7 separate regions of the Homo sapiens genome follow, and regions 1, 2, 4, 5, 6 and 7 are each linked to region 3. Evidence: fine-mapped expression QTL. A gene starts in region 3. Each other region holds a variant in brackets. All regions are shown on one strand. Distances are between the middles of the regions.

Region 1 (4,069 bases), 180 kb after region 3:
ATGTACCCTAAAACTTAAAGTATAATAATAATAAAATTAAAAAAAAAGAATGTGGTAAACTTAGCATTCTTATCTAGACCTTTTTGACATAGGTATGAAGAAGCTTAAACTTGCTCTCCAATCTAAAACTTTCATATTCAGGAGTCTACCTTAAAAGAATAATCAGAGAAGATCACAGAGATTCAGGTGCAAGGATGTTCATCACAGCATTATTTTTAATGATGAAGATGGAAATAACCATTGTGTCAAAAACATTGCATAATTAAACCATGGCACATTTATACAAGAGAATGCACCCATTAAAAGTCATGTTTTTGAAAAATAATAATGAAATAATGTATTATGGGGAACAAATTAGGATATAAAATAATATATATTCATGATGCTAATTTTAGAATATATACGTGTGTGTGTTCAGCAGTACATAACATGTCTATGATAAAAAGCAGTTGGAATGCTTGATGAAGGGAAAGAACTAGAGCTTTCAAAACAGCTGCCAAAAATTTTTGGAACAAACTAAATTCAAATTATTTTCATTTTTTACCTATCTGTTGGTGATAACATCGTGCTTACTATGCCCTTAAAGCCTGAAAATTTTAGCAGTTGATTCATGAACAGTGTTGTAAACCACAACGGAAGTTGCCAAGGAAGTGTGCTGGACTCCATTTCTCTTAAGATGAGGAAAGCAAACAGCATCAAATAATTCAAAGGAATGTTTTAAATCCAAGGACTTTTATTAGGGAACACAAGTTCATCTTCACCACATTTTGATGTAAAAGCAATATGAATCCAAGATCAATTCCTCTTTTGGTAAAGATGCCTTACTTCCTGAGAAACCCTTGTTCGGAAGGGACAGGAATCCTAGGGGCCCAATATTCAATCCAAGTAGTCAGATGTGGCTACTGTCTCTTTGCAGAGGAGAAGGTAGAAAGTCGAATCAATTGGTTAAGTGTCCCATACTCTGCCACTGAGACAACTACAGTTTTGCTGCTAAAAGCAGAACACAGACTTCCAGTGCCAGGGCCTGCCAACTAGCAGGCGTCTCAGAACCCAAGGCCTAATGGGTTATCAATGCCAGCAAGAGTTCTGGGAACCAAGGCCCCACACTGCCACCAGCAAGGCAGCAGAGGGTGAGGATTCTTCTCTCCCGGCCTCACTCTCTTGGACTCTCTACCCCAGAGTAGGCCTACGTTCCCAGCATCAGAGCAGCTTGTTGACACAGCTCTTAAAATTGACACACACACACACACACACACACACATGCACTCACCCTCAGTCATTTCATGCCAGATGCTCTGCCAAGGCACGTTAGCCAGAGGAGTTTCAACATCAGCAACCTCCCCTCTGACAACCCCAGTGTAGTGTGACACCCAGATCACTAGCCATGAGAACAAGTCAGAGCCTCAAAGAGAAACAGAATATGATTGGTTGCCCCTTAAGAGGTGTTAAGCAAATCTGCCCATCACTTTCAGCTTTGTATAATAATAAGTTTTGGAGAGCCTATGACCAATGTCACCCATCTACAGACCTCCAGGTTTCTCTAAGCCCCAAACTCTGGAGTCGGTAGGTATTGGCTTTATATCTACTTAGCTAAAAGAGGCTACTCAAGTGGGTCTTCCCAGAATAAAGAAGTTTTGCTCCAAGGTGAAGAAATCACAAAA[A/G]CTGGAAATAAATGGCCAACTTTAAAGGGCAGTTTTTCTTAAAAGAAAAAAAAAAATAGATTTAACTTCCATTTCATATAGCCCCTTGTACCTTAAAGCAACTTTTCCAGATCAAACAAGCAGATCAATAGATAATTTTTGTGACAAATAGATTTTCCAGGCTGGAGTTTAATCATCTAGGACTAAGCCGTGGTAAACAAAAACTCATAAACTCATCTCTTTGAGGTCAGTGTTTGACACCAAGGTACTGCCTAGAGTGCTCTGCTGTCACACCTGAGTCTTTTTATCCCTAAGATGGGTCACAATGCTTCCTGACTCAGGACGCTGTGAAAAATGCTTGCTGTAATGCCTGCACTGTTATGGCCCAGTACCTGGCACAAGGAAAGGGCTTGTAGTTTCTTTCCCTACTTCCTGTGCCTGCCATCTAGCCACCCTCTTCCCAAAACCCTCCACATCACTCTCCTGTAAAAAAAAAATGCTGGTCCAAACAGCATATGCCTTCTTCACATTGTGTTCTTCAAATTCTATCATAAATTTTTCCCCTCCAAGTAAAATCCCAGCAAAGCCCCACAATGCATACCGAGCAAATTGGTGAATGTGTTCCTGAAAGAGCCTGCCTGAAGCCCCATTGCCTAGTGAAAAATAGTTGCTAGCAAAATGCAATCCAAGCATCTCTGAGGACCCCAGTTGCTTGAGACAGTCCTGAATGAATTGTGATTGGATTCTACTGTATTCACAGGAGGAGAAGCAGGTTGGAGCTTTCATTGGTTCAGCCTTAAACCATCTTGGAATTTGGCAACACAAGCAGTCTCTGCAAGTGAGGAAAGCCCCCAGGGCTGAGCCGAGCACACCACCTGTCTCCATTAAATCTGGTGACATACAGAACCATTTGTTCCTTGCAGTTCTCAGCACAAAGCTACAGTTATTTTTAATTCAAAAAAATACGGTACCATCCAAATGATGTCTCCATTTTTACCTAAGCCAAGCTCTGAAGGCCCAGTCTCACATTAAAGGGAGAAATCTCCTGCCTGTATTAGCTGGTGAATTCACTACTCAGAATGGACCAAGAAATCTGAGTGGGTTTCTATTATTCAAGATTCCATTCTCCTGTTTCTGAACAGCCCTCAGTCTATTACCCCACACTTCGTAATGATGATACTGTTACTTCAACATAATTTTTAGCTTTTCAAAGCCCTTCAACATTTATTTCATTTGACTAGAAGAAACTCTAAAAAACACATAGTTTGGGAGAGAGTATTATGTTAATTATCATATCTTTTAATGAAGACATAAGTAAAACCCAGGTCATCTGATTCTCAGACGGGGCCAATGGCTATGAGAGCCCAGGGTGGCTTCTGCCTGGCAAAAAAAGACACACCTCAGAAGGGCTTTTTAATTTCTTCCAGCATGAAACTTCGTCTTGGTAACTACTACCAGATAATGGATGACATTTCATTACATTTTGTGATACATCTAGAATTTCCCATATTGAATCATATGAAATAACTAATGTTTGGCTGTTTTTGACTTACAAAAACAATTTCATATGATTTGACCTAATACTTTACAACTTTCAGCCTTCTGCAGGCCAGACAGGCCCAAGCTCTTAGATTGATTTCAGGCCTGAAAAATGTAGAAAGTAGAAATAAATCTAAGTGTGTGTGTGTGTGCACACACATGTGTTTACAGATAATAGAGCATACATCATTTAGCTTAGCCATTTAGGTACAACCCTCAAAGTGCTCTCAGAGTAATACTACAAATAATAATAATGAAGAGAAGGAGAAGAAAGATGAGGAAAAGCCGCTCCATGAACATTAAGTAACTTACCTGTAACTTTCCAATCACTGATTTATCTCTGTAGTAACTTAGCTATCACAGATCATTTCTTAGCCCAAGTCCCTACTTATTTCAGTTTCTACTCTCCAGATTCTTAGAATGTAGCAAATAACCTCTTTAATGCCTTCTACTTTTTAATAAGGAAATATGGAGATTTTGTTCATGTATTTACATTGCTTCTGCTGGTTTCTACTTTTTCTTCCAACCTCTTTTCACCCATAATGATCTTTTAATTGCATTGTGTATTATTGCATTGTAATAGTGCTATAATAACAAAATATTTCCTTGCAAATTTTCCATCAATGGTACTGCCTGCCCCCTCCTGGAAGGCAGATTTCTACCATCAAAAGAGTCTGAATTTTTTGTAGAATTTTTGTGGCCCCAACCCAAAAAGCTCTATCTACTCCAAAAAATTGTTTTGGTTGTACAGGCTAACTATTTTCTAGCAGTATATTACTCTACACAGTTGTTAAGTTTCAGGGCTCAAAGCCTAACATGTGGTTTAACAGAAACTAGGCTGCTCCTAGGAAAGCATATGACAGAATTCTGCTTCTATCATTGTTGTAACA
Region 2 (4,069 bases), 270 kb after region 3:
AACAGCTCCTGCTTCATCCTGAGGTGAGTCCCGAAAAGACTATCCCTAATTTCCCAGTATTTAGAACCCCAGAATTGCCCCACTTCCTTTTGAGACCAGGTCCATATACAATTCATGCTTTTCCCTCAATCCTGGGAACTGCTCCATGGCCTACCAGTGGATTCATTTTTGGCTTAAGTAGCCAGAGTTGGTTTCTGTGCCCCAACTGATAAATGTTCCAACATGAATTTCTAAACATAAACAACCTCAAACAAGGCAATGATTACACGAACAAATGCAACTGTGTTTGCCTTCAGGTTCCCAAAACAGAAGTGATCTCATCCCCAAATGCTGTTTATGCTGTATATTCAGCTGTCACCACCCTGGAGTTAACCCTTCCTCATCTATCCTCCAGCCCCAGAGCTCTGGGAATATCTACATCAAGAGGAGAGAGTACTAACACCCACTCCCCAACACTGCCAGGGCTCAGGGGAAGGGCCACTGGATGCTTGTACGAGTCAGGTACATGCTCCTTTAACCCAGCCCCATGTCCCTGAAACAGGTGCCACCAGGGCAAGGCAGGCTGAGGGAGAATGAATGGATGGCTCCCCACACCTCCACAACACCACTGGGCCCAAGTACACCAAATACAAATAAAACCTGCTGAATCACTTTCAGTTCTTTCGTTCTTTGTATGAACATCATTCACTCCCTTTCTCAGACACTTGTTGAGCCCCTTCTACTTCTACAAGTGATGCAGGTCCAAAACAAACAGCATTCCACGACAGAGAGCCCCTTGGGGATGGCAGCTAAAGCTTATTAACCTCTGAAAGCTCAGGGTCAAGTGCAGTGTCTACAGGTAGCAGCTGCTCCATGAACCTGGTGTTCTAATGATATGAAATGTACAAAAATCACATACCACACAGGAATGAAAACTTTCTTCACACCATGTTTGAGCCAGTGTGCAAAGTTGAGTGTTATCAGCGGGAAGCACCCTAGATGCTGTGCTTTATTCTTTGGCACTTTGCTCTTCCCTAGGTGTCTCCCCATCCACTCATGCCCTTGCTCATTCAACCAGGATTTATGGGAACCCCAGTCCTGCTTCTCTGACATGTCTTCAGTGGAGTCCAGCCTACAATAGAGTACGAGATTTGACAATTCTTCTCACTTTGGCAAAAAAAAAAAAAAAAAAAAAAATCAAGAAACCTCAGGCAATGGACTCTACAGCACAGGAGGAACCAAAAAGCTAAAAAGCAGTAGGGGCTTTGAGGGCTGAAGCAGGAGTGGAGAAAGAAGAAAGAAACAGTTGGAGAGATGTTCTCCAGGCTTGAAATAGAAATGCTGAGCGGCTGCAACAGATTTCGATCTGCTAATCTGAAAAGTCACATTACTTGGTCCTGATGTGAATCAGTGAAGGCTCTTTTTTTTTTCATATCTGCCCATATATTTCCACTGCTCCATACGCAGGCGCCACCACCCAAGGAAGCCGCTTGCCTGTTACCTCAGGGCAGAGTGACAGCGGGCAAAGCGGGGATGTGAACAACTCCAGGCACTCAGCCTTCTGTCCAAGCTACCAATAGATCCCCAGGAATGCTTGCTACA[A/C]ACCTTTGGGAGGTTATTCCTCCATGAATGAATGCTTACAAATGAAACAGAGGCCTTTAATACATTGCAGCGAGAGACACAAAGGTCAGGGCATTGAGGCTGCACATTTTTAGAATTCAGCTTTCTTTGTTCTCTACCACCTGCATCCTCCATCCAACGTCATCCCAATTTTAAACTCCCCAGGGCTACAGGAATTTGCTATTGGAGGCATTAATATTACAAATATCACAGCTATGCTGCCTCAAAAGTAAAATTTTACTCTGGGCAAGGTGGTGTGTACCTGTAATCCCAGCACTTTGGGAGGCTGGGAGGATCGCTTGAGGCCAGGAGTTCAAGACCAGCCTGGGCAACATAGCGAGACCCTGTCTCCAGAATAAACATTAAAATAAAGTAATAAATAAATAAAATTCTTGCACATTTCCATACCACATTTCCAAGGAGACAAGAGTGGGTTGTGGGTTTCTTGACAATTTTTATAACTATATATGATTTTATAACTGTATATGATTTTATAACTATATATGGCTCTCAATTATTCATGAGAAGACAATAAGTAAGTCTTTAGAAAACCCTTAGGATTTTTTCAGCTATTAGTTTCACCCTCCTGGACCCAACTCACAGCGCTAACAAGTAGTAAAATGAGCCATTTCTTCATTCCCCACTTCCCCGGAAGGTGAGGCCAGTCAATACCGAACTGATGAAAAGGCAGGCAGGCAGGCAAAGCCTGGAGGGAAATGTCACAGGTCATGTGCTCCACAATTGTCACAATAACTTTGAACTAGAAATAATTTTTGTCCCCAAGAGAGCCACTCCCTCCTCACTCAGTCTTCCTGAAATATATTTTATGTTCTGGTTCTCATTTCCTAGGATCTTATTCATTTGCTACCAGGATCAGCATACGCTTTTTACCCAAGGTAAGAGAAGGTTTGTATCTCTAATACCATCTAGCAGTTATTCAAGCATTTGTTCAGTAATTCTAGAATCTTATTGCATTGCTCACAGTCGGCACTCACTGTGTGAGTGGCACGGTGCTGGGCCCAGACAATACACGAAGAACAAGATGATTGAGGCATAGCCTGGGAGGCAGCCATTCATGACACAAATAGCTATTTAGTGACCATTGTGATGTAGCTTTAAAAGAATACAACTTGTGAAATCCATTTCCTTTCAAGACCTGCCCTTAGAGAAGAGAGGGAAAACCCGCAGCAAGGCAGGTGTGTGCCCACAGGTTAACGTGACTTGGGGCACGTCTGAATAGGAAGCTTCCACCTAATTCTTTTTTGTACTCTGGGAAAGCAGCATGGGCTTTGCACCAAAATGCACTAATTTATGTTAAATCAAAATATTGGGGAAAACTCTTCAACTAAAGCACAACATTTCAGAAAGAGAGTGTGCACAGCCCCACTCATGAAGGAGGCAGTTGGCCTGACGTTGTCCTTGATGTCATCCTTCCATACCTCTGGTCACCTTCCAGCTTCCTCTAAGCTCTACCCATCTCCATTTGCCTCTGGACACCTACCTCCAAGCTCATTTCTACTAATTCTAACAGAGATATTGGGTGAAAATGGCCTGGTTCAGAATTGTTTGCATTTTAAAGGAAGATTCCAGAAGACTGAAAGAAATCTTTCAGATTCTAAAAATGGAAATGATAAAATTATCTCCTTGACCCATCAAACCACCTCCAATAGAGTCCCCCAAACCATTGCCCATTCCTAACCCATGGAGAGAAATGGGTCCACCTGTTATATGTGCAAACCCTGAGTCTGTGTCTTATTTCTATGTGTGCTCACTTCTAGCACGCTGGCCTCTGAAGCACCTGAGGTGACAGGGAAACATGTGAAGCCATTTTAAAACAACAACTGAATCCAAAGTGGCAGCCTGTGTCAAGATATCAAACTCAGATCAGTTATCACTGAAACAATGTTACTCAAACACTTAACCTTGCTGTTGTTGTTTACTCATCCTTCAACTGTATACTTTTAAAGTGATACAGAATCAGTCTTGTCCCAAACACACACACACACACACACACACAAAACTGTCCTTATATGACCTTGACATAATTTTAGCAAGGACTTTCCAGGAAGAGAATCTAGTAAAGCACCAGTAGGCATTATCTTTCTGAATCATCATAACTGCCTCTTGCTACCACAGAAAACGTAATTTTTGAAGAATGGGAGAATGTAAGCCAGATTCAGAAAGTTAAACATACACCTGTGGGGCAGCCTCAGCAGTATCATTTATACCCTCTGGAATTTGTAGCCCCAGAGTCCATTCCAGATATTATTGCAGTAACACACCTCACTATCCTGCAGCAGGAAGCAGGCACCCCACAAAAGTGGGAGCAGGTAGAGAATAAAGAACTAAACTGAATCACATCTAGCAAACAGACTTCCCCTGTCGTATTCTCCCAAGCCCTGTTTTTCCTGCCCTTCTCTCTTTCCTGGTCTAATACAATTATTTTCCAACTGGCTTCACAATGCCAGAA
Region 3 (4,069 bases):
CATTGAATACAATTATTATAAGACTTTAATTTAAAATGTCATAGAGACAGCACCAAGAAAATCTCTGCTACCTGGAAAAACTATAATGATAATTCCACATTTTGAGTAAAAGAAGTAAATGTCAAAGTGTACCTCATCAAAGATAGTGCTGTTAAATGACGGTGCTACTGGTCTTATCTGTGCTCAACTGAAATGTTACATATAAATTATCATTTTTCTAGGGGTGTTAAGAATATGGCCTCTGGGTTATTATAATTTTGAGATCAATTAAGTGATGAGATTATGTCTCAGTAGATGTGCCTGGAATGAAAGCACATTAGACTTTTGGAAAATCCTCCACGGAGACCCTGACCAAAAACAGACATGTCAAATGCCAGCAAGTTAAATGAATATTCACTCATTGAAAGCTACTGAGAAATTATTGATATACCCACAGTTATTCACTTATTACTGTAGCTAAATACTGTTCAAAATTTTTCACCTCCAAGAGTAAAATAAATGCTATTAGAATTCTGAAACTAATAAAGAACATAAAAATTAAAACAATATATTCTTGCACTAAATTACGATATAATTCACACACTGTGAATATATGGTATTCATATATACAGTTAAACCAGTTTCTTCTACTAATTAAAATACTAGCTGTATTACATGTAGTGCTCTAAAATTTGCCCCTTTTTCTGTTAAACTTGTAAGATTTAGACACCTGGTTATAAATCTAGACTTTGGCTAACTTCAGTACTACAGGTATTCTTTAAATTAGAAGCTCCAAAACAATTCAACCTGTATGTCATGAAAGAAAATCTGAAATTACTAAACTTGGGAAGGAAAGGAACTACAATACAAAGAAAACAATTTGTAGTAAATAGTATTATAGGAATAAAGAGATAAAAATTCTTATTAATCACAGTTATCAAATTATTCATTTAAGATCCAGAGCAAATTGTGAGTGACTACTTCTATCTGTGTTTGAGTTAAAGTAGAACTTGTGTCAATGATACTTTTCATTTTAGGGCTATTGTTTTTTTCTTTAGGTAATTATGACGATTTTTAAAAATAACAACAGCTTACATGACTCCTTAGTAAAGACCACCTCATGCCATTCTCTTCACAGCTGAATTTTCAGGGGAGGATACTGGAAATATGCACTTTGCTCTAACAACCAAAAAGCAATTGCATGCACACATGTAAAAGGTTCCACCCCAACTTCCTTGGCATATTCCCGATTATTTCTCTCTAAACAGGAAACTGTTGACAATTTTTCCTGGTACTTTCAGAATACCAAAGGTTTTACTTACAAGCAAAATCCCAACTTTTGTTTCAGTTATAATGTTATTTCCCGTGGTTCCTATTGTTGCTAAATATGAATGCTGCAAACAAGATAGAAACCAAATTCCAAACTATTTTAGGCTGATTCAGAATTGAGTAGCAATTGTAAAAAGAAAAGTTAGAAACACATTGCAAGGCTATGCTGGAGTTTTTAAACCCAAAACAATACTGAAGGGAGGATTCCTGGAATTCAAGAGAGAATATTTGGCTCAAGCTGCAAAATCCGTATGTCTAAATAATGTTATGTTAGCAAGTGTTGAGCAAGCAAGACGATTATATTTTAACCTACTTCACAAAACATTAATCCAAATTTAACCAAATTCCAGAGAACCTGCCTGAAATTCACAACTAGAAGCTGCTTCACATTTTCCCCTTGGTACAACAATAATTGCTCATGAATACAAACTTGTAGGAGGTAAGAGAGAGGGGAAAACCACAATGAGCTATAAAAACATCTAACTATTGTATATAAAGCAAACTAATTACCTCACTCAGAAGAAGTGCAAGATTTAACAGTCCATGCTCTGCAGCCCCTGGAAACAGCAGTAGCAGCAGCAGCAAGGTCCAGCATCCACCAGATTCTCACAAGCCTTTGACTGTGTGGACTCAGCCACAGACTCTGCCTCTAGCTGACGTCAAAGTCCCTGTCACATGGCCAGATGAAAGCCAAGAGATCATTGGTTGTCGTAGCAACCACAGACCGGCTCTGAAATTATTTCAATAGGTCATCTGTCACTGTGGTGTGTGTGTGTGAGAGAGAGAGTATGTGTGTACGCACACACCATAGAACCATCACGGACAGCTCCTTGACAACCTCAACCCCCGAAGTTGTGACTCCAGAATGCCTACAACTTTCCTCTTTAAGGCTTTGGTGTCTTTTCTCTACAGTTACTTGCAGGAAAATATATGCCACCCTGAAGTTCTCATTTGTTTCACTACCATCAGCATGAAGCATGTCTCTCTCTCTCTCTTTCTCTATAACAAAAGGAAAGAAACTGAAAAATTCTGGAGTAGTTTTCTTAGCCAATTAAACTTATTTGCAAGCAAATATATAAAAACAGAAGCTCAGGGGGAGGGGTTGGAAGAAAATGTATTTTAAAAACTATATCAGAGTCTACATGGATATACTGAGACCATGCTTGTGATGGAAAGAAAAATAAAAAACAGTGGCTTGGGTTCATGACAGTGGCTTATGACTCAGAGACAGGTAAGACAGTCTAATGATCCTGACACCAAGTAGGATGTAGACATCAGATAACATAAATTCAGGATTCCTGTACTGTAAAATGTCTAGGTAAAAATGAGGACCGAAGGAGTTTCAAAACAGTGTTACTTTAAAATAACCATGTGAGTAAGCTGAAAACTGTGCTTTGGGGCCATACGGGTGCCAAATGCTCCCCTCTTGAGTCCTCTCATCCACACCCCTTTGCTGAGACTCAACATTGAGTAAACAGGGCCAGTGTTCCACAAACACAAAGTGTAATGAAAGCCCAGAGCCATAGAATGAAAGGGTTATCTCACATGTTTTCTAACATCAGCTTTATTTCCTTTACGACGACCCTAGCTTACTTTTAACTCTGCACACGTGCCTATTTCCCAGTTAATTCTCTTTCTTAATTAATGGGAAGCCGATTAAACAAAATCAATGAAACTCACAAGAAGGTACTCTGAAAAAGACATTCAGAAAATGTATGCCCAAACAAAGGACAAGGAGTTAAAAGGCAGGGGAGAAGAGACTGCCCTCAAAACCCTAAGGACCTTTATATGCTAGGCTTATAACGACTTCTATTCTGTTTCTTAAAATAAATAAATAAATAAAAAAGAGTAGCTCTGGGGTGCTACAAAATATAAATGGAACCTAAGTCAGCCAGGCAGATTACATTTGTGTCACTGTAAAAGAATGAAATTTCTTTAGTAGAATCAGAAATTGCTTCTTTAATAATAAGACTAATGTTCAAATCACTTGGTCATAGAATCGTCCTACTCCATCCTCCTTTTCATCTTCCTTTATTTCTGTCCCAGCCCCAATTGGGAGAAAAGATAGATTTTTATTTAAAAAGTTATTTTCCTGATGCGATTAGCTGTGGCACTGCAAAACCGAAATCAAACTATAAGGAACTTTCCTCCTTTAATTTCAGATTAATGACAGCTGGGAATTTACCTGTTTGAACAAGGACAATGGAATCCAATGTCTACCTAAAGCCTCACTAGGGGCAGATTTCACCAACAGCCACAATTCATAAACTGACAATTTGTTCCAATTATTGTTCTGCTTTTATGTTCAGAAATGCACATCATACAAATGAGGGAACCGGAAGAGGCAGAGAAACATACCCTTCTAGCTTTCCCTGGACCCACGTTCTCTGAGCTGCTTAATTTACCATCTCTCTGGCTCTAATCCATAGCTGCCTAATTAATTCTTCCTCCTCTTTATGCAGCTTTAGCATTTAAGAGAGAAAAACTGCAGTGCCACATTCTGCTAATAGGTGATGTCTTCTGAAATAAGAAGTTCTCAGTTCTAAAAAAAAAAAAAAATGCCTAAAATTCAGGACTTTAAATGGATTAATTTGAAAATTAGCAAAAAACCAACACTTTTACTTTGACTGGTTTAGCATTTTTAAGACTAAGTATACTTTATACTGCCTTGGGCAGTATTAAAATATTCAGTGAACTATTAAAATATTCAGTGAACTGGCTGGGCATGGTGGCTCACGCCTGTAATACCAGCACTTTGGGA
Region 4 (4,069 bases), 290 kb after region 3:
AGCTGATTCTGAACCCCTAGGAGACTGACCTAGCTTCCTGTTGGCCATATTCTCTTCAAGATCTTAATTTTTGTGCCCCAAACCCAGACTGATGACCTGTATACTTTTTGACTGGTTTTTGAGTCTCAGAAATTAGATTTATGGCCATCAACCCTGACTGCACTTGATCAGCAGCTCTCACGTCGGTTCCACAGGAAATCCTCCACCTCTTCCTGTGGGCATATTTACTTCCACACAATATTATTACTGATGTGTATACAGGTTTACATCTACTTTCTTCTATAAAGAACTTGAAGATGCTTGTAAAATATATGCAATAAACTAGAACAGTGGTTTTTTAATCAATTTAGGGTATATCAATTATGATTCCATTCAGCTGTGACTTTTTAATCAATTTTGGGTGGGGCCATTATGATTCCATTCAGCTGGGAACTTTGTTGTACTGCTCCATCATTTCTTCTCATGTATGGCTTCTTTTCCATAAGGTGATAACGTGGCTGCTACACCTCCATGCATCACAGCTGCATCCCAGGCAAAAGGAAGGAGGAAGGGGAAAAGACAACATCACAGACTTCTGCTTACTTTATATTGGTCAGAACTGTGTCCCCTGGCCAGTTAGCTGTAAGACACACTGAGAAACTGAATATTTAACGGGGCCTATTGCTCTGAAAAAACTCAGATTTCTCTTAGTAAGAAAGAAAGAGAACATATAACAAGTAGACAACTCACAGCAAGTGCCACACCAAGAAAAGTCTAAACCTCATAGATGTTACCAAAAGGAAATTTTTCCCTATGTGTCCATGAATATTTATGGAAACATAACTATAAAACTATAGGATTACATTTACATAATACTATAGGATCATAGTAATGTAACAGGAGGTTCAGCTCTCATTGAAATCTTCTCTCATTTTCTCAGGACTTGATGGGACAATAGTGGTACCAAGGCAGAGGATTGTCTAATACTATAATATTATACAATGTGTGCTTGTATAATACTATAGAATTATGTAGGTCTGATAAATTAGAATAATCTGGATAATTATTTATTGCATCTCTTAGGGTTTTCTTTTTCTCCTTTATAGTTCTCCCTTCTGAGGTTCCTTCTTATTTAAATCAATAGGAGAATCTTAATAATAAACTTAAGAGACATTGGCAAGATGAATCAAGACTCATGAAAATGTTTCCACGTTGGCTAGGTGCGGTAGCTCATGCCTGTAATCCCAGCATTTTGGGAGGCCAAGGCAGATGGATTACAAGGTCAGGAGTTCAAGACCAGCCTGGCCAAGATGGTGAAACTTTGTCTCTAAAATATACAAAAAAATTAGCCAAGCACGGGGGTGAGCACCTGTAATCCCAGCTACCCAGGAGGCTGAGGCAGAGAATTGCTTGAACCAGGGAGGCAGAGGTTGCAGTAAGCCGAGATTCCACCGTGGCACTCCAGCCTGGGTGACAGAGCGAGATTCTGTCTCAAAAAAAAAAACAAACAAAAAACTGGAAACAAAATAAATGTCCCCAAAGAGAATATCAAATAAATTATGGTCATTCTAATCTATGAAATAGTATGTAAAAAATAAAACTATTATGAAATATTATAAAGGAATATAAAACTTGTGTATGCTATCATTAAAATTCTAAAAATACATATAAATAGTATAAAGACCAAAAAGGAATAAAAAAATAACATGTTTATTATAAAACATGAAACGTGTTTATTAAGAAAATGTGTTATGAAGATTTTCCCTCTTTCTTTTCTCAACTTTTGAAATGTTTTTAAAATGTTTGTAAAATAGTCTGCTAAGAGAACACAGGTGACTTATTGTTAGTAACCAAGTCAAGCTAATGAGTGACACACACAGGCTTGCGGAGAAGAAAAATCAGTCTCATTCTCCCTGGGCAGATGCTGAACCACCTGCCTGTACCGGTTATAACAGAAAGCCTCCCTAAAAATAAAGCCAAGAGGTTGGGAACATAGAAATGGAATAAGATTTTAGCAGCTACATAAGATTTGCCACATCTCAAGGCCATTAAACTCAATCATGGGAGTGAAAAAGTCAACTCTATTTTCCACAGTTTATATGTGAGAAATAGAAGCTCAAAATGACTCTCCAGAGAGAATGCATCCTCTCACAGCAAAGAGGATCTAGGGAACCAACACAAAATAATACTTGTATTCACCTAAGAGGCTTCTGGATTGAATAAATCCTCTCTGGCTGCATCTTTAACCATGTACCCAAATGCTGGTGAACAGGTAACTATAATTACCTAAATAATTACAGGTAGCTATAATTACATAAATAATTACAGGTAAGTATAATTACCTAAAGCAAATAGCACGCCTTCCTTCTGAAATGACACACACTTGAAGTTGTTTTTCTAATGGTGATGGTAGACTTA[T/C]ACAATTGCCTACACTTGTGACCCTGCTGGCCCTGTGGCCCACCCGTGACTCACACCTGCACAGTGACCTGTGGCCTAGGATTGAGAATTCTGCTTGAGGCCAGAATGAAGCAATGCTATATCATCTTCCCCATTCACGCCCCTTCCCTTACAGGCCCTTCCTGAAATCATGTAGTCTCTCTTCATCAACAGCTAGTCACATAACTCCCCAAATTAAGTAATGTTCTCTATTCTTTCCCTGTCTCTCCTTTGCAGAGGCTGGTGGAGGGGGTGGGGTGGAATTGCTAGTATGAGCCTCCTGGGATGCCTTAGCACTACTTGGGTGAAAGGTTCATTCCAACAAAACTCATACCAGATTGAAAGGATCATTTCCCCACTGCCTGGAGAAGAACTGACTGTGATGATCACCCCATCCTATGGTTCCTCCACAGGGTTCAAAATACGGAGGCCGCATTGTGTCCATGGATGGGAGCATGGAAAGAAACCTTTAAAAGCTGGACCAAGAAAGGAAAGAAGACAGAAAAGTAGGAAGAAATCCTGATACTGGTGGTACCAAATGCCTCTGAAATTGTTTCGAAAGTAAAAGTTAAGAGGGAACTAATAAAAAGTCTGTAAAAATGAGATAAATTAAAAGAAAGATATGATAGAGAGAGAGAAATAATATCCCTTAACAGTCTGTCAGCAAAATTTAAATTATACTTTAGGCAAGTGTTAGAATGCCTGCCCGTCCTATCCCTTCCCCTTCTCATGAAATCTGGACTGCCCACAAACTTAGTAGACAGCAGGCCTCATACCCCCATTCCCTTTAGCGACTACTGATTGGGCCAAGGACAGACAGCAGACTGGAAGGGGCCCTACACCTTGGTGGGCCAGATATCAGTTGAATTCACTGTCTCTGGAATTTGACCTCTTACCTGACTGGCTGCTGCTCCTCGGTTCTCTTTGGTGGCTCTCCTCCTCATCTCCACCTCTAGATATCGGGGTACCCCAGAGATTAGCTCCAGGCCTCCTCTGCTCTATACACATTCTCTCTCTGGGTGATTCTAGCTACACCTCTGGCAAAATTTAGCTAATCTCCAGTCCTGACCTCTCCCCTGCTCCAGATTCAAATATCCAAGTAGCTGCTTGACAGATTCATTTGGAGACCAGGTAGGCACCTCAAAACTTAACGTGTCCAAAACATGAATTTATTTTCTCTCCTCCCTCACCCCCATCCTGACCCTTTCCCTGTCTTCCCTCATGTCTACAAATGGCCACCCCATGCAACCAGTTGCTCTGGCAAAACTTAGTCATCAACCTCAATTTATCTCTTCTTTTTATCACACCATGCCCAACTCACCTACAAATCCTGCAATATCCCTACACAGCCCCTTCTCGCCAGCTCCACTGCCACCACCCTAATCCCAGCTGCCATCACCTCTCAAGGGGATTACTGTAATAGTCAGCTACCTGGTCTCTTTGTTCCTACTCTTGCCCCTCTACATTCTATTTTTCACACAGCCACCACAGTGATCTTTTAAAAATGTGAATCATGATCAAATGTAACTCCTCAACTTAAGACCCTTCCAATCAATGGCTTTTTATTTCGCTTAGAAAAAAAGTCCAAATGTCTAACCATATTACAAGTCCCTTTGTGAGATGTCCCTACCTCTTGCCTCTCAGACCTCAAATC
Region 5 (4,069 bases), 340 kb after region 3:
TTCTTTCCCCAACCCCCAACTTCCAGTGACCACTTATCTATTTTCTCTCTATGTAGATTTGCCAATTCTGGACATTTTATATAAATGGAATCATACAATTTGAGGACTTTGTGACTGGCTTCTTTCACTCAGCTTAATGTTATCAAGGCTGTCTCATGTTGTAGCATGCATCAGTACTTTGTTCCTCTTTATGAACAAACGATGTCATTGTATAGCTCTATCACATTTTGATTATCCATTTATCAGTTGACAGACATTTAGGTTGTTTCACTTTTTTACTATTGTGGATAATGCTACTATGAACATTTCTGTTCGAGTTTTTGTGTGGATGTACATTTTCATTTTTCTTGGGTATATATATAAATTGCCAGATCACATGGTAACTCCACGTTGAACATTTTGAGAAATTGCCATACCTTTTCCCAAACCAGCTGCACCATTCTACATTCCCACCAGCACTATATGAAGGTTCCAGATTTCTTCCATATCCTCGCCAACACTTGTTATTTGCCACTGAAAAAATCATACCATCCTAGTGGAGGTACAATGGTATCTCTTTTTTTAAATTTTTCTTTAAGTTCTGGGATACATGTGCAGAATGTGCAGGTTTGTTACATAGGTATACATGTGCCATGGTGGTTTGCTGCACCCATCAACCCATCATCTAGGTTTTAAGCCCCACATGCATTAGGTATTTGTCCTAATGCTCTCCATCCCCTTGCTCCCCAACCCCCACAACCGACAGGCCCTGGTGTGTGTTGTTCCCTCCCTGTGTCCGTGTGTTCCATGTGTTCTCATAGAGTGGTATCTTATAACATTTGATTTCCATTTTCCTAATGGCTCATGGTGTTGGTCATCTTCATGTGTGTATTGGCCATAACTTCTTCAGAGAAATGTCTATTCAGATCCTTTGCCCATTTTAAATTTGGTTATTTATCATTTTATTATCCAGGTGTGAGAATTTTTTTATATACTCTGGATATAAGTCCCTTATCAGATCTATGATTTGTCAGTATTTCCTCCATTTCTGTGGCTTGCCTTTTTATTTTCTTGGTGCTGTCCTTTGACGCATAAAAGTTTTCCATTTTGATGAAACACAAATTATCTGTCTTTTCTTTTGATGCTTGTACTTTTAGTGTCATACCTAAAAGGCTTTGCCTAATTCAAGAACATAAAGATTTATGTCTGAATGTTGGGCCCTGCTTTTTTTTTTTTAAGATGGAGTTTCACTCTTGTTGCCCAGGCTGGAGTGCAATGGCATGATCTCGGATCACTGCAACCTCCGCCTCCCAGGTTCAAGTGATTCTCCTGCCTCAGCTTCCTGAGTAGCTGGGATTACAGGTGCCCGCCACCATGCCCAGCTAATTTTTGTATTTTTAGTAGAGACAGGGTTTCACCATGTTGGCCAGGCTGGTCTTGAATTCCTGACCTCAGGTGATCCACCCGCCTTGGCCTCCCAAAGTGCTGGGATTACAGGAGTGAGCCACCCCTCCTGGCCGGGCCCTGCTTTTTTAAACGCTCTTTCAACAGTGTGGTATTGAAAACTGGGAACACTGAGACAACCGGCAGTAAGTCTACATTCAGAGCCTCCCACCTCAAGAGGTCTCATTTGCTGGGACAGTTCTCTCACCACCTCATTTGGTCAACTTTGGGCACTGACTGGCAAGTTTGTGTCAAGCAAGCAACTGAATGTATAGATTTTAGACTAGCCAGTCCAACAATGGCAAGTATTCATTCTAAGGGCCTCCTGTGTGCTTAGAGCTGCTCCAGGCTCTCAGGATATAGCACTAAACAAGACAGACAGGTTCATGCTCTTGTGGGCCTTAAAGTTTAATGAGAGAAAAATAAATAGAGCACATAAGACATATATTAGATGAGTGCCTATGTCAGTAATTCACATAGAATGATTGATGGAACAGCTGAGGAAGGAGCCAGGCAGGGGAAACACAGTGCAAAGGCTCTAACTTGGGGGTAGGTTGGGGGGAAATACACAGCTTATTCTGGAATCCAGGAAATCAGATGTGCTAGAGCTTGGTGGGGGTGCCTTTGGCTGAACTCCCCGCAAGCAGAGCCTGAGCAAAAGTTTAGGCATGAACAGTGCGTAAGGAAGTGAAATCACAGGGGAGTAGGACTGAGAGAAAAGGGAAGTGAGTCAGGAGAAGAGGGAGAGCAACTACAAGGAAGTGCATTCC[G/A]TGGCTGGGCATTGCCTCTCGAGTCTGCAGGAGCACCAAGGGTTGGTCAGGAGGCAGTATGGGGGCATTACTGAGAGTTTAGGAGGGATCCAAGAGAAAGGCACTGATCTATGGTCTTCAGAGAAACAATGTAATGCTTCTGAAGTTCCAAACATCTGTCGGCAGTGGAGGAAGACTACTGGTGTGGTTGGAAGAAAGAAAACTTACTAGCAGGCTCCCTTCTCCCGTTAGTCAATTTAGTCTCCCATTAGTTAACTTAGCCCTCCTAGGTTGCATTTGAGTGGCCACAAAGTAGCTGCCTGGACAACATCAGGGAAGTCCCAAGGTGGAAGGCAAGGCATATGACAGGAGGTGAGGCACTGCTGGGCTGGCTGTACCTGAGAGCGCCCTGAGGGACTGGGAGCAGCAGCCACAGTGAGCACCTCAATCCGAAGTAGTAGCAGAAGTAGCAGCAACCCGGCCCCCTGAACACAGTGATAGTACAGACCACTGCTGGGTTTGCTCTAGCAAATTGGTGCATTATCATCTATCTTAGAGGATGCATAAAATGAGCTTAATACAGTGGCCAGAAGGGAGAGTAAAAAACAAGGTCACAGAGTGCCAGGGCCAGACCATGGACTGTTTCGCAACCTGGGATCAAGAACATAAAATTTACTCTCAGTTGGAATTTATTCTAAGAACAATGCAAAGTCATTGAAGGCTCCTTTGAAATGTATTTTTTTTAATTGACAAACAATAAAATTCACTTTCTTAATAAGCAGTTCTGCTTGTTTTAATAAATGCACGGTTGAGTAGCCATCATTTCTATCAGAATTCAGAGCACTGTCACCCCTCCAAAAATGTTACTGCCCATTGTAGTGAAGCCTTTGCCCTAACCCTAGCCCCTGGCAATCACTGATGTGTTCTTTGCCTCCGTGGTTCTTTCTTTTCAAGAACGTCAGATCAATGAATCATATAGTATGTAGCCTTTCAAGTCTGGCTTCACTTAGCATGAAGCATGTGTTATTCATTTGTGTTGTTAAGTACATCAATGATTTATTCCTTTTTATGGTATGAATGTACCATAGGTTGTTATTCATTCACCAGTTGAAGGAAAGTTAGGTTATTTCCAGTTTGGGGCAATTATTAATAAAGCTACTAAAATAATTGCCTACAGTTTTTTCTGTGAATACAAGCTGTTATTCCATTTGGTCAAATATATAGGACTGGCATTGCTAGATCCCATGGTAAGTGTATAACTATGATATATATAGCTAAACTATATATATCAAAAAGACAGAAAATAACAGATGCTGGCAAGGATGGGGAGAAAAGGGGAATGCTAATACACTGCTGGTGGAAATATAAATTAGTACAACCACTATGGAAAACTGCATGGAGGTTCCTCAAAAAATGAAAAATAGAACTACTATATGATCCAGCTGCTGGGAACATATCCAAAAAAAAGGAAATCAGTAAATCAAAGAGATACTTACACTCCTATATTTACTGCAACACCATTTCACAATAGCCAAGGTATGGAATCGACCCAAGTGTCTGTCAATGGATCAATGAATAAAGAAAATGTGGTATATATACACAATAAAATATTATTCAGCCAAAAAAAAGAATGAAATATTGTCATTTGTAGCAATGTAGGTGGAATTGGAGAACATTATGCTAGGTGAACTAAGCCAGACACAGAAAGACAAATACCACATGTTCTCACTTATATGTGGAATCTAAAGCAATCAAACTCATAGAAGTGGAGAGTAGATGGTGGTTACCAGAGCTGGGAAGGGGAGGAGTATGAAAGGAGGCTGGTTAATAGGTACAAAAACACACTTAGATAGAAGTAATAAGTTCTAGTGTTCGATAGCACAGTAGGGTGACTATAG
Region 6 (4,069 bases), 320 kb after region 3:
GTACTATTATTGCTTCCGTTGTCACCTGAAGATACAAGCTCCAGGGGCCTCACAGCTAATAAGTGGCAATACTAAGACCAAAACCGGATTAATCCAGCTCCAGAAGGGATGTGCTTTTTCCAGCAGAGAACAACAGATTGCCTCCACATTCTTTTTTTATACCAAAAATATCCCTTGCCTAAGCTTGTTTTAGACAAACTGTGATAAAAAAAAAAATTGTTATCAACTAACCAAACAAATTGGCTATCAATACACATTTAGCTATTGTGAATGAAGAAGATACTGAATGACTACATCAGTTTTCAAAAAAGTTATCCAGTCCCCAAATTAGAACTACAGGAAGGAAGCTGCTATAGTTTAAATAAGGTTGTTTGTCTCCACCAAATCTTATGTTGAAATCTGATCCCCATTGTTGGAGGTGGGACTTAATGGAAGGTGCTTGGGTCGTGGGGGTGGGTGCCTCATGAATAGATTAATGCCCTCCCTGGGTGGAGGAGGGAGGTAAGTGAGTTCTCACTCTATTAGTTCAGTGGAGAGCTGATTATTAAGAGCCTGGCACCTCCCCCTCCCCTTGCTTCCTCTCTGGCCATGTGATCTCTGCACGTGCCAGCTCCTCTTCACTTTCCATCATGAATGGAAGCAGCCTGAGGCTCTCACCAGATGCCCAATCTTGAATTTTTACAGACATCAGAATTATAAGCCAAATAAACCTTTTTTCTTTATAAATTACCCAGTCTCACTTATTCCATTATAGCAACGCAAAATGGACCAAGACAGAAGCTATGAATGCCCTTCAAACAATGGAAACAGAAAAAAATAAACCAATTAAGTGGTCTAGGAGAGAAAAGGAAAGGTATAGACAGACCTAAAAATAGTTTCCACCTTATCTCTGTTTCAGTAATAGCAGATTAGCACATATTCTCTTGGAAATGTCACCCAGGCAACCAGAAATACAAAGACAAAGATGTTCCAAAAAACACATGTATATAAATCTATTTTTGCCATCTTTAAGCATAAATGATCACTATAGCAAGAAAGACAATAATTAGGAGATTATCTTTTTTAAAAGCAGGCACAGAAGAAAGTTTATAAATAGGTACCTAGTGTAAAGCAGGGTAACAAAGTGTAAAAGTAGGTCTCTATCTGATAAGAGGCCCTGGCCCATTGCCTCAAATTCAGGCCAAGAATCTATTAGAAGTGTTAAACATATTTTTGCCTATGTTTTTCAAATCTCATGTTTTTATTTCATAAACCAAAGGCAGACGAATACAAAATATGGTAGGCCGGCAAATTTTAAAAATGTATTTTGAAAACTGCCTTAAGTCCCACTTAAGTAGAATAACTATGTTTCTTTACCTGGATTGCCTAGGACAGTCCCCATTTGTGCCTGCTGTTTTGCTGTAATTACTGGAAAGTCCTCCCCTTTCACTCTCAAAAATGTCCCAATGTGAACAATAAATTATGTAGTCGTCTTATATTTAGCCAAGAAACATTTCTTGGCCAGTTATGATGTGCTACCTACTGGGTTGGGCACTTATATTAGTTTTTTAAAAGGTATGTAAGATAAGAACAATTTCAGAACAATCTACTTGAAAAGACAGAAATAGCACCCCAAACAACCGTGAATCAGTGAAAACTTGATAATCATTGGTGTAGTCTAGGCTGTCAGTGCCTTAGTTCAGATCAGAGAAGAGTAGCGAGTGTATCCCCTCAAGGGGGTCACTCCGTAGAACTAATGCTAAAAGCAGCAATGCTTCTC[G/A]AGCACTTCCTGTGTGCCAGGCACTATGACAAGCATGATGCCCACGTGATCTCGCTTCATGCTCAAAACAGCCCTGTAAGTGAAGGGCTGTCATTCGCTCATTTTATGGATGAGATGACTTCCCCAAAGTCAGGCCAGAGAATTCAAATGTCTAGCTCTCAAACATACGTTCTCCACCACTGTAGATGTGGAGGTACTGCCTTCTGATCACCCATCCCTACCAGGAGCTGGCCCAGCAGAGTCACGTGTTATCACAGCCATCAGCTTCTCTCTTTCTGCCCTGCAGCAGAGCAAGCTGTGGCCAAACTCTGTCCAAGGGTTACCAAATCAGTTAAAGCCCAACCAGAAAACTAAAGAGGCTGCTCTTGAATCCTACAGAGGAGTCCTACTGAAGAGGCTATTGAGAAGAAAGTCATACAGGGGTTCAGGAAAGCAATGAAGGATGATGCAGGACTCTAAGGCTAGTAATAGCAGGAAGCCATGACCACCCTAGGCCTGAAGGCATGAGGGGAGGAAGTGGCTGAAGGAACCCAAAGAGGGTGGCGATATGGAGAGGATAGCTGCAGGCGCTGTGGTCTTTAGCACACACACACCAAGCTGCAGCTTGCAACCCAGTGGAGGGACAGGGGAATAAATACCCTACCTCACTCTCCTCCCACCCTCCCGTCTCCTGCTGATTTCTGGCCAAATTATACCAGAAGTCAGAAGAAAAGATGGCCATTGACGCCAGTGGTAAAGATCACCTCTTGGGGCACAGAGCCAGGTGGAGAAGGGAGCCAGGGATGTGGAAGGGCCAACAGGAGATATCCAGGCCTCTTACTGCCCTTGCCCTACAGAAGAGCTGTGCTCCAACCAAGGCAGAGGAAACTGGCCTGGTCACTCTTTGGGAGTTAAGGTGCCAGGTAGGTAAAAGGACACCATCCTCAGCATATGCACAAAGCCAGGGCCAGTTTCATGAGCATGTGACCTGTGCCATCACACAGGCCCCATACTCAGCAGGGCCCCATGCTGGCATTAATCCTCCACTAGCACCATCTTCAAATTCTTAATTTTTTTAAACAAAGTTCCCACACTTTCATTTTGTTGTGAGCCCCACAAACTGTGTAGTTGGTCCCCTGCAAGGCAAACCTTTTCTTCAGGTAGTGAGACTAAATTCTGTAAGTATCACAGTATTCCGATACACTGTTAAAGCAAAAGGATCCAAAGTTAATATTAACCAGAGTAACAATGATACAGTAGGATAGGTAAGATGGTAACATGAAGGGGCACTTTACCTTTTTTTCTTTCCTTCCTCTCTTTTAAAGTCAAACTGTAAAGCAGCTGAGAAACCAAAATTAGCTGCCCCCTAGAGAGAAACTGACCTTAATTACACCTGCTACTCCATAGCACAGACTGAATGGATTTTGGCTCTTCCCCAGTTAATGCGATCAATGCAGACAATAAAACAGAATAATTGATGCCCTGGAGTGGACTTTTCTGATACACCTCATTTGATGGACTACAGTCATCGAATTCTCCAGGCCATTGCCAAAGCTACTCTTTACCTTGCCTTATGTGCCCGATGTACACAGGCCCTACTTTGGGGCTCACTGTTGAAAATACATAAATAAAAGACGTGCGGATGGGTCAATGGCATTCACAAACAATATTTGTAGTGGATGCTTCCTGAAGCATGGGCTTAGAAACTTGAGTCTCTGCTGCTTCTGCTTCCCTTTCCTGAAAGACTCCAGCATCCTTAGCCTTCCTCTGAGAAATTATATTTCTAAAAGCATCTGGGAAAGCCCCAGGTGAGAAGCCTGAACAGGACCAGTGGCAGCTCTTTTTCCCATTCATTTCCTTCAATGCCATCCAGCAAAGCAAAGCCCAGAAAACGTTTAGCTGAGACAGGGATCAAACTGGCTTCTGACAGCCTCTTTCACACCCCTTTATTTCAGAAGTAAAGGACGGTAGATTTTAAGTGTTTGTTTATTTTGTTGTTTAAAGTTAGAATAAAGTTGCAAATGATCAAATCAAAAGCATTTAGAAAACCTCTACTGTGTCAGAAGGGGAACATCACACACCGGGGCCTGTCGTAGGGTGGGGGGAGGCGGGAGGGATAGCATTAGGAGATATACCTAATGTAAATGATGAGTTAATGGGTGCAGCACAGCAACATGGCACATGTATACATATGTAACAAACCTGCACGTTGTGCACATGTACCCTAGAACTTAAAGTATAATAAACAAAAACAAAAACAAAAACAAACAAAAACAAAAACCTCTACTGTGTGTCAAGGAACCTAGAATCCAGACAGTAAATCAAATCTAG
Region 7 (4,069 bases), 220 kb after region 3:
TTCATGAGGATTACATTGGTTAAATATAAACATGAGAATAAGTTGAGTGTTGAGCAGGAAAACAGTAACAGGATCAGAAAGAAGTTTAAGCTGTTCATTTGGGCCTTCAAATACACTTAGCCTGAAAAACCAGGAAGAGTAAAAGGAGAGCTGTCGGCCTGTGGGAAAGAACAGCAACTTTGGCTTTACTGGTAAGGCAAAATCACCTCCAGCCTGTGGGTCTCTCTGACGTTTCCCTAGAGATAACAATTTTCCTTTACTTAAAAGTAATGAACAATTATCAGGTGATGGGGACTTCCTCTTCTTCATTGTGTTTGTGGGTGTTTATACCACATAAGATTACATCAGGAAACACTTTGGAGGTCACCATACACACTAACCAATGAGCAACTCAATCATTTCTATATATGTACAAGAAAGTTGATAATTTCAACCAAATGATCTTCATATATCCCATGAATAAGCTGTGAATTTCTTCAGGGAAGGATACACAAGAGAAATGTCACGTCTGGTTCCTTTTTAATCATGTAGTTGAGGAGGCAAAGACAGACCCACAGGAAACATGGACAAGAGACATTGTTTGATCTCTCTTGAAACTTACCTACTCTTCATTTCTTTCTTGACCTCACGGAGTCCTCTTTGACTTCTACCCATCCACCATATCCATTAACCACTTTCTCCAACTTTATGGTCAACCCCTACTCCCCCAACACAGACACAAATACACCTTGGTCTCCTTCCTTCTGTGCCCAATCTGAGAACGTTATGAACTCTCCATAGATCCTCAATATTCTTCTCCTCTTATCTTTTCAACCCTGGATCAATCCTGCATTCTTTACTCTCTGTTCCAACACTGATAACTCCAGGAGAAAAGCTACATCTTCCTCAAAGATCCCTTCGAGGAAGTCACGAGGTCTCACTTGAGAATGTTAACTTCCCAGCTAGGCTGTAAGTTTCTTGAGGACAGAAACTGTGTCCCATACTTCTTTGTTAAGACCAAGGGTACCCCTGAAGGCTCAATAAATCTTTGATGCAATGAATTAATGTCAGAAATAAGGAACTAGAAAGGTCAGTGCTCATTTGACAATCTTATGTATAAAACTTTCCTACCTAGTTTATGTGTAAATAAACACATAAAGTAGGTATGTGCTATTCCAAAATAATTCAAATTATTGAATTGAATTATATTCAAATTATAGCCTCAGAAGGGACTGCTACCTAAAAATCAGCATGTAAAAATTATTCTGTGGATTTCAGAGTTGTAAAACTCTTCAAATTTATCTTATAACTCAAAATATTTTCTAATTTAAGATCATCCTTCCTGTTAGTTAAAGCAGTGTAGTGAGATCTTACTATACTATATGAGAAACCACATTTAAAGTTTCACCAAATGGAAATTCATCTTCAGGTCCTATTTGTATCTCTCCCATGGAAAAACAAAAGGGTCTTTCCATGTTCGTCAGAAAGGCAAATATCAAAGGAATCCTGAAATATCTCATTTCAGGGAGAAGAAAGTCAACATTCTAATGAGGCAATGGCCACTGTGAGGTGTAAAGTTTCAATGGGACATTGCCCCGAAGGAGTCCTGGGTACTTTGAGTCCACACTGGGAATGCAGAATGCTCTTCCCTTAAGTCAGTGGCAAACTGGTCTCAGCT[GT/G]TGTGGGGACAACTGCTCTGCCAAGCAAACTGTGCTGCAGGTCATCAACCTCATACCAGCTTGGCAGGAACAAGCCCGAATGTCACCTGATTCTCCTACAAATGTAATAATATCCAACAAGCAACTGATTGGACAGCACACGATGTCATTTTCTCTAATTAAGGAACTCTCAAGAAAAACCAAAATAGCCACAGAGCACTGTCAGCAAAGCAATCAGTGGCAACAATTAGCTGTCAACTCCAACTCCCGGGCTGAGCCTTGGGTAGGGAGCTGGGCTAATTGCTAAGAGTTTCCAAATCAGCATTACATCAGGAGTCAAAGACGACAAGGACGTAAGGAGAGGCCAGAGCCTGCTACACACCAACAGCGCCTGCCTCAAACACTCCTCTAGTGCGGGGAGTAGCGGGATGTGTAATCACAGGAGCTACTGCCCAGTCATCTGCATTTGCTTGTTTGTTTGTTTCTTGAGAAGCAATGCAGAGGGATCTAATGATGAATCATGCAGTGAGCTTCTGAAACAGCTGAAGGCCTAGTGGCTGTGGTCCTTGCTGTTTCTTTACCCTGAGTCACCCTTCCTCTTTACCTGAAACAAGTCTACCCATTCTTTAAGATCTATAAGCAGTTCATGCCCATCTCCTTTAAAAGGGCTTCAGGACTGCAAAACACACATGAATTTTCCCTTTTCTCAGCTCCCATAGCAGATCACCACATTGCAAGGTCATTAGTAGCAGGAGTTGAGTAAACATATAAAGCAACTAATATAATACAGTTGTCACAATATGTAATAATATATAACAATCAGATATTTTTATATATACACACATACACTCACACACACACACAAATATATACCCTCACACACATACATACATAAGTATTAGAGGAAGCATCATTCTCTCCTTCTCAACATTCCTACTACCTAGGCACATAAAACAAAAACGTTTATCTTCTTGAAACTACTAGAAGGTGATTCTTCTACCTCACTACATCCCTCCATGCTCCCTCAAGGGAGTGAATTGAATTGCTGGCCTGAGAGTGTATAAGCACATGGTGGTCTAGGTACCTCCCCTTTTCTCTATTTCTGGTCTCAGCAGCTCATATTTTTCTTTTCCATGAAAGAAGATCTCAGCAATCAAAGTAATAGGAGATGTCATTGTAGATGAACCTGTTCATAATTTAAGCTCATTCTCCAATACAGCAGCACTGGTCCTACTGCTAATCTTTACCTCCCTGTTGGTCTGATGTCTACATTTAGTTCTCCATCCATAGCAAGCCCAGCCCCAATGGATTTAGCAGAAAGAATATGCCCAACTTAAAGACACATTTCTCATCCTCCTTTGCAGCTAAGGGTGACCATTGAGATTGTGCTGGAATTCACTGGCCAGGGCAACCAGAACAACTCTTTACCTGGGCTGACTCCACTGGGAGGCATGACCTCGTGCCCTTCTCTGGCTACCTGCTTGGAACACATATGTAATGGTCCCAAATTGAACAAGATATGTTAAAAAAAAAATTAATGATGTTGCCAGATGTTTTGACTTCATGTCTCTCACTAAGTGGGGAAAGGAATGAGTTTAAAATACCTGAGTCCAAAAACAAAAGGAAAGACAAAAGGAGAGCAGGTGCTTTAATCCAGAAATCACGGCTAGCATTTTCTATGGAATTAAAGGAAAGAGAACAGCTTAAGAATTTGGATAAATGTAAAATTAACCTTTATCAAGATTTGAGAAAACTAGAATTTTGGCAGCACACTCCCTTCACTGAATAACAAGATACTCAAAGTCAGGAAGATTAAAAAGTTGAGAGCTCTTGGCAAGAAGCTTGTCAGAGGAATGGGTCCTTGCTATGACCCTGTGGGCCAGGTTTTTGAAGCATCAATAGCAACTTCATGCAGGAACCTGTTTCTTAATCTGAGACCAATATGGAGAGGGCAGAATTGCCCTAGGAAGCAGGCTTCATGTGAGTCTCTGTCCATTTGGGCTGCTATAATAAAATACCATAGACTGCATGGCTTATAAGCAACATTTATTGCTCACAGTTCTGGAGGCTGGGAAGTCTCAGATCAAAGTGCCAGCAGATTCGGAATCTGGTGAGGGTCCTATTCCTGATTTATAGAATGGTGCCTTCCTGCTATGTCCTCACATGATGGAAGGGGCAAAATTCCCATAGGTTTCTTTTATTAGGGCATGAATTCCATTCATGAGGGCCCCACTTTCATGATCTAATCACCTCCCAAAGGCTCTCCCTCTTAAAACCATCTCTTTGGGGGTTGGGTTTCAACATATGAATTCTGGGGGGTATACAAATGTTCCCATCACAGCAATAGGTCTAAAAAGAAATCTCTTTATGAGAGAAAGCACCAGAAAATTCCCTGCTACAAGAAAGAGTTAATGTTTTTAAATGCTAGGAGC

Direction of the effects. Alleles are on the strand shown, and positions count from the first base shown. SD is a standard deviation of normalised expression in the study named. Not every link is listed here.
As copies of GT replace G in region 7, the expression in skeletal muscle of the gene that starts at base 1,926 in region 3 goes up (small effect, 0.23 SD a copy in GTEx).

What was found. PIP is the estimated chance that this variant, and not a neighbour inherited with it, causes the effect.
Region 1: its variant is the best candidate, but not a certain one, in a credible set for the expression of NCALD in lymphoblastoid cells (GEUVADIS, PIP 0.75).
Region 2: its variant is the best candidate, but not a certain one, in a credible set for the expression of NCALD in testis (GTEx, PIP 0.56).
Region 4: its variant is the best candidate, but not a certain one, in a credible set for the expression of NCALD in whole blood (INTERVAL, PIP 0.72).
Region 5: its variant is the best candidate, but not a certain one, in a credible set for the expression of NCALD in whole blood (INTERVAL, PIP 0.87).
Region 6: its variant is the best candidate, but not a certain one, in a credible set for the expression of NCALD in lymphoblastoid cells (TwinsUK, PIP 0.50).
Region 7: its variant is the best candidate, but not a certain one, in a credible set for the expression of NCALD in skeletal muscle (GTEx, PIP 0.79).

What each region holds. Positions count from the first base shown.
Region 1 is chr8:101,966,607-101,970,675 of GRCh38, forward strand. It overlaps a transcript of NCALD not described here. Among named protein-coding and RNA genes, the nearest start is that of MIR5680, 160 kb to the right of the region's middle. The variant A/G (reference allele first, on the strand shown) is at 1,662.
Region 2 is chr8:102,063,858-102,067,926 of GRCh38, forward strand. It overlaps LOC124901997 (a long non-coding RNA gene), which reads left to right. Exons shown (of 3, transcript XR_007061038.1): 1 at 1-23; 2 at 2,449-2,495. It also overlaps a transcript of NCALD not described here. Among named protein-coding and RNA genes, the nearest start is that of MIR5680, 60 kb to the right of the region's middle. RefSeq lists an enhancer at 2,233-2,811. The variant A/C (reference allele first, on the strand shown) is at 1,582.
Region 3 is chr8:101,789,044-101,793,112 of GRCh38, forward strand. It overlaps NCALD (neurocalcin delta), which reads right to left and starts at 1,926. Exons shown (of 4, transcript NM_032041.3): 1 at 1,819-1,926.
Region 4 is chr8:102,074,480-102,078,548 of GRCh38, forward strand. It overlaps LOC124901997 (a long non-coding RNA gene), which reads left to right. Exons shown (of 3, transcript XR_007061038.1): 3 at 2,829-2,911. It also overlaps a transcript of NCALD not described here. Among named protein-coding and RNA genes, the nearest start is that of MIR5680, 49 kb to the right of the region's middle. The variant T/C (reference allele first, on the strand shown) is at 2,398.
Region 5 is chr8:102,126,477-102,130,545 of GRCh38, forward strand. No RefSeq gene overlaps it. Among named protein-coding and RNA genes, the nearest start is that of MIR5680, 3.1 kb to the left of the region's middle. The variant G/A (reference allele first, on the strand shown) is at 2,193.
Region 6 is chr8:102,112,277-102,116,345 of GRCh38, forward strand. It overlaps a transcript of NCALD not described here. Among named protein-coding and RNA genes, the nearest start is that of MIR5680, 11 kb to the right of the region's middle. RefSeq lists an enhancer at 209-710. The variant G/A (reference allele first, on the strand shown) is at 1,760.
Region 7 is chr8:102,010,503-102,014,571 of GRCh38, forward strand. It overlaps a transcript of NCALD not described here. Among named protein-coding and RNA genes, the nearest start is that of MIR5680, 110 kb to the right of the region's middle. The variant GT/G (reference allele first, on the strand shown) is at 1,658.